Homo sapiens: one gene and its partner. The protein of the gene in region 1 interacts with the protein of each later gene in a pairwise test. Each region holds a gene or a part of one and is shown in the gene's direction. Other genes may lie near its edges. The genes, in order: OARD1 and RAPGEF3.

Region 1 (2,866 bases):
ACTTAGCTCCTCTCCTAACTACTGCCTGAATGTGGGGTTCTTCAACAGTCCAGGATGGCATTTGGTCCCTGAAAGGGTGTGGCTTCCTTAGTGGTGGTGGTGGGTAGCTTACAGCTAACCCACTACAAGCCTGATCTGGATGACAAACTGAGTGGGGAGATGTCCTAGCCCCTTTGAATTCTGTCCTTAAAGCTTATGTGGCTTCCAGTGGTTTTACTTTGGGACCCTACCAGTTTTTTCTGTTGTTTTATGTAGAGAGACAAAAAGCAAGCAAGCACAGTTTCTAAATAAGTAGAGGCTTTTAGCAGGGAATTTTCAGGTGGTATGCTTTCTTCCCTGTTAGAGATATGCAGCTTATCTCTTGGAAGTGGCACAGAGACTTCACCTACCTTGCTTAAAAATATTGACAATAGGCATCATCTGCTAATCTCATGGGTTTCCTAGGAAAAGGAAAGATTGCTACGTGGCAGAGTCTGGGTTTCTCAGCCTCTATTTAGTGGATTTTCTTGAAGGTCTCCCATAACAGTGTGGAAAGGGCAATATGACATTTGTCATCCTTGCTCTAGACTAATTCTATAAAAATGTGCTTACTCTTTTAATTATTGGGATGTTGGGGGAATGTGATGACTTTTCTTTGGCTATCATTTTGGGATGATGAAAGTTTGAATCCTTTGTGTTCAGATTACAAAGAAAAGGGCTTCGCACAAGCCAACTTATGAAAACTTACAGAAGAGTTTAGAGGCAATGAAGTCTCATTGTCTGAAGAATGGAGTCACTGACCTCTCCATGCCCAGGCAAGGAAATCCATGGTCCTAAATGGAGATTTAATTGATTGGTGGGGTTTACTATCTTACCCAAAGACAAACAACTTAAAAGCTTAACCCAAAATATAGATTTAAAGGTGGACAAAAGTCAAAATTTTGTAAAACCACCAGTGAACCAGTTGTCTGGCTTTAGACTAAGGCACAGCCATTTTCTAGCTTGAGTTGAATGAATCAGGACAATTACCTTGAAATATACATCTGCCTCAGCCTGCTTAGCAGAGAGCGACCATTGTCATTCAGCTACATTTGTTGAATTCTCAGCACCCTCTGCTTGAAGCTTGGCCTTTATTCCTAAAGCAATGTAAGCTAAAGAATCAAGACTGAGCAATGGTGGTTTTCCTCTTGGACCACTTCCCATCTCCCAAACCTATTACTTTGCGTCAAGAAAGTTGTAAATTATCATTCCCTTTTATACTGCACACTTGTTTTGGTCAGTATGGGTAATAGCCAGAGGATCTGTCCCTGATGTAACTTCTTAGACTTTAGCTATTGGGAATTTAGGGAATGACATTGAGGGTTCAGTAGTCCCTTTGCTTTCTTTTCAGGAAATGGGCCTCACCTCTTTTCTTCCTGTCACCCTGGTAGTTTTGAGTCAATGCTGAGCATACATGCAGTTTTATCTTGCGCCCCACATTACTTTGCATATGGCCTCAAATGTCCCTTATTTTACACTGGTCTTTGATATATTTATGGTGTACATACATATCAGAAACTTTTTTTTTAATCACAATTCCTTATGGACTTAATTATCACATTATGACATGAAATTACCAATTTTAGGTCTCTTTTTTCCCTAGGCGTGTTGAGGATCACTAGAGTAACATCTTGGAAGGTGCCAAGTAGTAGAGTTTTATGGACTGAGTTTATTCTTACCAGGGTGTTGCAAAGACCTTACTCCTGGATTGCAACTATCTTACCATTTCCCAGCATTCCCTCTTGACTTTCTTTTTTGCAGATCCTGTACCTCATTCCTCTTCTCCTTACTTTCGTTAACATTCTGTTACCATAAGTGCATTTTTAAAATACCAACCTTTCACCATCCATCCACAGCCAATTTTAGTCAGTAGTCATAGAGGGATAATGAGTCTCTAATGTCATGACAGTTACACATTTCTAAATGTAGCATGAAATAGTTGGAAAGTAGTATCTTATTAGGCAAACAGAAGTGATAGTTTTTGGATGTTAGAGCTGTCTAGGAATGGTCTTCGGTGACTCACAACAAGAATTGACTTCCAAACTCCTACCATGGTTGCCCATAAGGGTGTCAGACTAGATTATTTGTTTTTATGCTTTGAGTGGATATAGCTTAAAAGAGAGGAGCAGTTTCCTAGATACTTTCGTTACCATCAATGGAGATATTTTGTCTTTTTCAGGATTGGATGTGGTCTTGATCGTCTGCAATGGGAAAATGTATCTGCGATGATCGAGGAGGTATTTGAGGCAACAGACATCAAAATTACTGTGTACACACTCTGAACCAGTGAACATTTTGGATGTTTCCGTGTTCTCCTGTGTCATCTCTACTGGGCCATAGGACCGGGCAAACCTACCTTAAAATAGGCAGAGGAAAGTTTCATGAGAAGTAGTGTGTTTAACAAGACAGACTTTGGTTGCTGTATTCAAGTATTTGGATTATGACTGTGGAGGAGGGCTTGCTTAAGATATGTGGTTGTGTTTTTTTGTGGAAAAGTAAGGAGTTAGGTGGCTTGATAATAGGCAGGGAAACCAGATTGTCGGGACTATGACCTTTTTCTCCAGTATGCTACCTGATTTGTTTGGCTGGCCACTAGGTGGCAGCATTGGTTCTACTTCTCTGCTTTTTAAGAGAAATTTCAGGAAGGATGATCATTCCAGTTAGTTTGGCATTTTTTGTCGTTTGTGCACATAACTTGGTGTTATCCTTATGTCATCAGATTCCTCCTAGGGGAGAGTTTTTGTTTTAATTACAAAATTAAATTCTACATTGTTACCAAGAAATTTGTGGTGATAAAAATGGAAAAATAAAAATTTGGGGAGTTAGTGAGGTTCTGTGCTTATGTCTA
Region 2 (3,824 bases), on another chromosome or scaffold:
CAAACCCAGGAGGAAAGGGAACCCAGGAGGAGGATCCCTGGAGGAGCGAGAGTAAGAGTAGGACCCCAGAGCAGGCAGGAGGTGGGCAGGGCCCCCTGGGCCAAGGACAGGGGTCTGATCTTTGTCCTAAGAGCAGTGCAAACCATTAAAGGGGTTTGAGCCAAGGTTGGCAAAGTCTGATTTGTGTTTTGAATAGGTCAGCTAAAGAGCCTGGGCTTTCTCCAGCAGACAATGGACGCCACTGAAGTCGAGTGCGGGAGCTTCACAGGGCTCTGGTCAGGCAGATTGGAGGAGGAGGGCTGGAGGCACCTGGGAGGGAGGAGGAGGAGCATAGTTGGGCCATTGGAGTAGATAAGGAGTGAGGCCTCGTGGGCAGGTGGAACTGGAGTTAGCCTGGGCAGGGGAGGAGGGGGCACAGAAGACCCACTTCAAAGAAGAATCTTCAAAGCAAGATGACAAGCTACGGAAGTGTGGAGGAGCCTGGAGCTGGGGAGAATGGCTGGGGAACAGAGTGGTCTGGGAGGCAGGATGCAAGGATCCGATGGGTATATGGAGTGTGAGGTAATGGATCATTCATGTGGAAGGATGCAGGGGGTTTTTGAGACCAGGGTTTGGAAGAGAGTTCAGCACTGCTGGTAGTTTTGGGAATCACCCATGTGCAGGCGACACATGAGGCAGTAAGGAACTCTGCAGGGGTCCCTGAGATTTGGAAATGTAGGGAAGAGCAATGGATTGAGGTCCGAACCTGGAGGATCTGCTATACGCAGAGCTGGGAGGAGGGACAGAGTCAGTACCAGAGTCGGAAAAAAGCAGGGTGGGAAGGGGAACCTGAGTCAGGAGACTTGCCTGGCAGGCGCTGCCCTGCCAGCAGAGGCCTGACAGTGGTTTCCATGAACTGCATCCCTGCTGTGGGCTGGGACAGGGCCACTGACACAGTATCGGAGCACAGAGGGGGAAAGGAGCAGGAGGGATTCCAACTCTGCCAGTTAGCAGCTGTGTGGCTTTGGGCATGTTACTTAACCTCTCTGAGCCTCATTTATTTCATCCATAAAATGGAAATAAAAATAATACTTTTGTCAAAGGCGCATTGTGAATATTTAGATCCTCAGAATAATGCCTGGCTTGTAGCAAATGGTAGCTGGAGGAAAAGGAAGAGAAAACCAAAGTCAGCAGCTGAAGGATTTTCATATTAGAACTGCTCTGGACCTATCTGGCAGATGCAGAAGCACACACACACGGAGGGGCATGGATTTGCCCCGCCCTTAGACATGTTGTGTCTTCTCCTGGATCCTTGGTCCCAGGTGCCTTACCTGAGCTCAGGTGAATGTGGCAAGCAGAGCCCTCTGGTGGTGTGAATGCTGTGTGGCGCCCGTGCTCCTGGTGACACAGGGACCTCACAATCCCTCCCTCCACGGTCTCCTCTCATGTCCTCCCAGCCTTATTTTCTCGTTCCTCTTCCTCCCAGGCCCGGAACTTGCCTGTTTGGCTCCCCAACCAGGACGAGCCCCTTCCTGGCAGCAGCTGTGCCATCCAAGTTGGGGATAAAGGTTGGTGGTCTGTGCCGGCTGGGCACAGCCCGACATCTGCACCCTGCTGTCTCTGCCTCTCTTGTCCTGCTGTCGTCACTCTTGACCTCGGTGTGCCTGGGCCAAGGTGGCACGCTGTACTCCTCAGGGTCTGTGTTCCAGGCTGCTGGCTAGATCTGCCTCCTACCTGCCTCTTTTTTGCTCAGGGCCTCCCCACCTGCAGCTCAGCCTCTTGGGGATCCCTCCCACCATTACTGCAATAGCCGCCCTCTCCCTCCTGGGGTGGAGATCAGGCAGCCCTTCCCACAGCTCAGTCTGGTCTCCTCTTCAGTCCCCTATGACATCTGCCGGCCAGACCACTCAGTGTTGACCCTGCAGCTGCCTGTGACAGCCTCCGTGAGAGAGGTGATGGCAGCGTTGGCCCAGGAGGATGGCTGGACCAAGGGGCAGGTGCTGGTGAAGGTCAATTCTGCAGGTGGTGAGTTGTGCCCCTGGATAGACCCCAAGGGAGGGTGGCCCCTCGGATCTGCGCCCAGGTCCCCCAGTCAAGATCATTGTCATCATTGTCATCTTTCTGGTCTTCCTCAGTGTGAATGATGGCTAGCATTAATGGGAGGTGGAGTGCGTCTGTTCGAAGTGCATTTCATGCAGTGTGTAAGAGCATGAGCTCTGGAGCCTGCTGCTTGCATTCGGCACCAGCCCTTTAGCTCACCATCTGTGTGTCCTCTGGCAGGGTACTTCATCCCTCTGTGCTCAGTTTTATCATCCATAAAATGGGAATAGTAGGAGTACTTGCCTCCTGGAGGAATTGTGAGGATCAATTGAGTTCATCTATGAAAGCATTTAGAATGGTGCCCGGCACATAGTGATACATAAGTATTAGCTGCTATTATTATCATCATTTGTGTTTAGTCATTTAATATGAATTAATAACAATCTCATGAGATACAGGTACTTTTATCCTATTTTCAGACAAGAACACTGAAGCTCAAAGGGCATGAGCTATTCCTCAAGCTCACACAGTGAGAGTAGCTGGTCTTGGAACTTAAGTAGTCTTCATTTGTTTAGTCACTCAGCAAACATTTTTGAGGATCAGCTATGAGCCAGCAATATGTTAGGAGCTGGAGATACCACAGCAGGTAAAACAGGTCAGCTTGATGGTTAAGAGCATAGACGGTGGACTCCCAGACCCGTGAAGGCATCTTAGGCTCACCATTTACTAGCTGTGTGATGCTGGGCAAGTTGCTTAACCTCTCTGAGCCTGCATTTCCTCACCTGTCAGATGAGGACTGTAATTGTATCTACCCACAGGGTTGCAATGGCTAAGTGAGCTAATGTGTGTAAAGCACTTAGCACAGGGCCTGCCAGTCAGTGCTGAGAACATGGCGGGCTCAGGAGTATTAAGATGGGCCTCCAGAGAACCTGGAACATTCAAAACCACTGTTCTCTGCGGAGGGCACGGGCTTGACAGCTGGAACCCAGGGCAGACAAGAATTAGGGGCGTTCAAGAAGTGGGGATGAGAAAAGAAAAGCCTTCTCCCTTCAGGAAGTGGGGAGAGATGGTCACCTGTGTGCCCTGCCCTGGGAAGCACTGCCCTCTGCTGGCCACCTGGTGAGTTGCAGTTGCCCAAAGGTCATGTTTATTGAGACCCTACTATGTGCCAGGCACTGTTTAGAGCACTGATCTCCGAAGCACTTGGATCGACACCCATGTCAATAACCAACATTTAATTAAAACCCACACCCCACTGTGTGAATATTTGTTTGTAAGTAATACACATATATTACTACATTAATATCATAATAAAGATAGATAAAATAGAAATTGATGGAGTAGAAATGCAAAGCAGGTAGAAAAAGTAAACGTAAGTAGAAGAGCTCATATTTTCCCCAGGCACATGGATGATCTGATGTACCTTACTTTGGAGGCCACTGCTCTAGGGACTGGGGACTCAAGCACAGTCCCAGTCCATGAGGAGCTGATGAAAATCAACACCAAGGCTTATATAAGACACTTCCCAATTTTCAAAGGGCTTTTATACATAGCATGTACTTATAGCTACTATTTATATACATTATTTTATTTGACTTATGAAATAGTTGGGGCAAGTCTTATTGTCTCCATTTTACCAGGGAAGAAAGTGAGGCTGAGGGAGGCTCAGACCCTGCCCAGGTTCTTCCTGACTCACTGAGAATCTTTCCTCATCCTCTTGGATGTGCTTCCCTGGGCTGCGTGGCTGCGTGGGCACATGCACCTGTGTATTCTGAGCACCACCCAGGACTTCAACCCCGCTACTA

What was found.
Region 2: the proteins of OARD1 (region 1) and RAPGEF3 interact in a two-hybrid assay, tested with the Homo sapiens proteins (one large-scale study listed by BioGRID).

Annotation. Positions count from the first base shown.
Region 1 is NC_000006.12:41,066,769-41,069,634, reverse strand, and holds part of OARD1 (ADP-ribose glycohydrolase OARD1), read left to right. Parts: intron 1-681; coding exon 682-794; intron 795-2,197; coding exon 2,198-2,300; 3' UTR 2,301-2,866. UniProt on the Homo sapiens protein: ADP-ribose glycohydrolase that hydrolyzes ADP-ribose and acts on different substrates, such as proteins ADP-ribosylated on glutamate and O-acetyl-ADP-D-ribose.
Region 2 is NC_000012.12:47,741,710-47,745,533, reverse strand, and holds part of RAPGEF3 (rap guanine nucleotide exchange factor 3), read left to right. Parts: intron 1-1,465; coding exon 1,466-1,547; intron 1,548-1,857; coding exon 1,858-2,004; intron 2,005-3,824. UniProt on the Homo sapiens protein: Guanine nucleotide exchange factor (GEF) for RAP1A and RAP2A small GTPases that is activated by binding cAMP.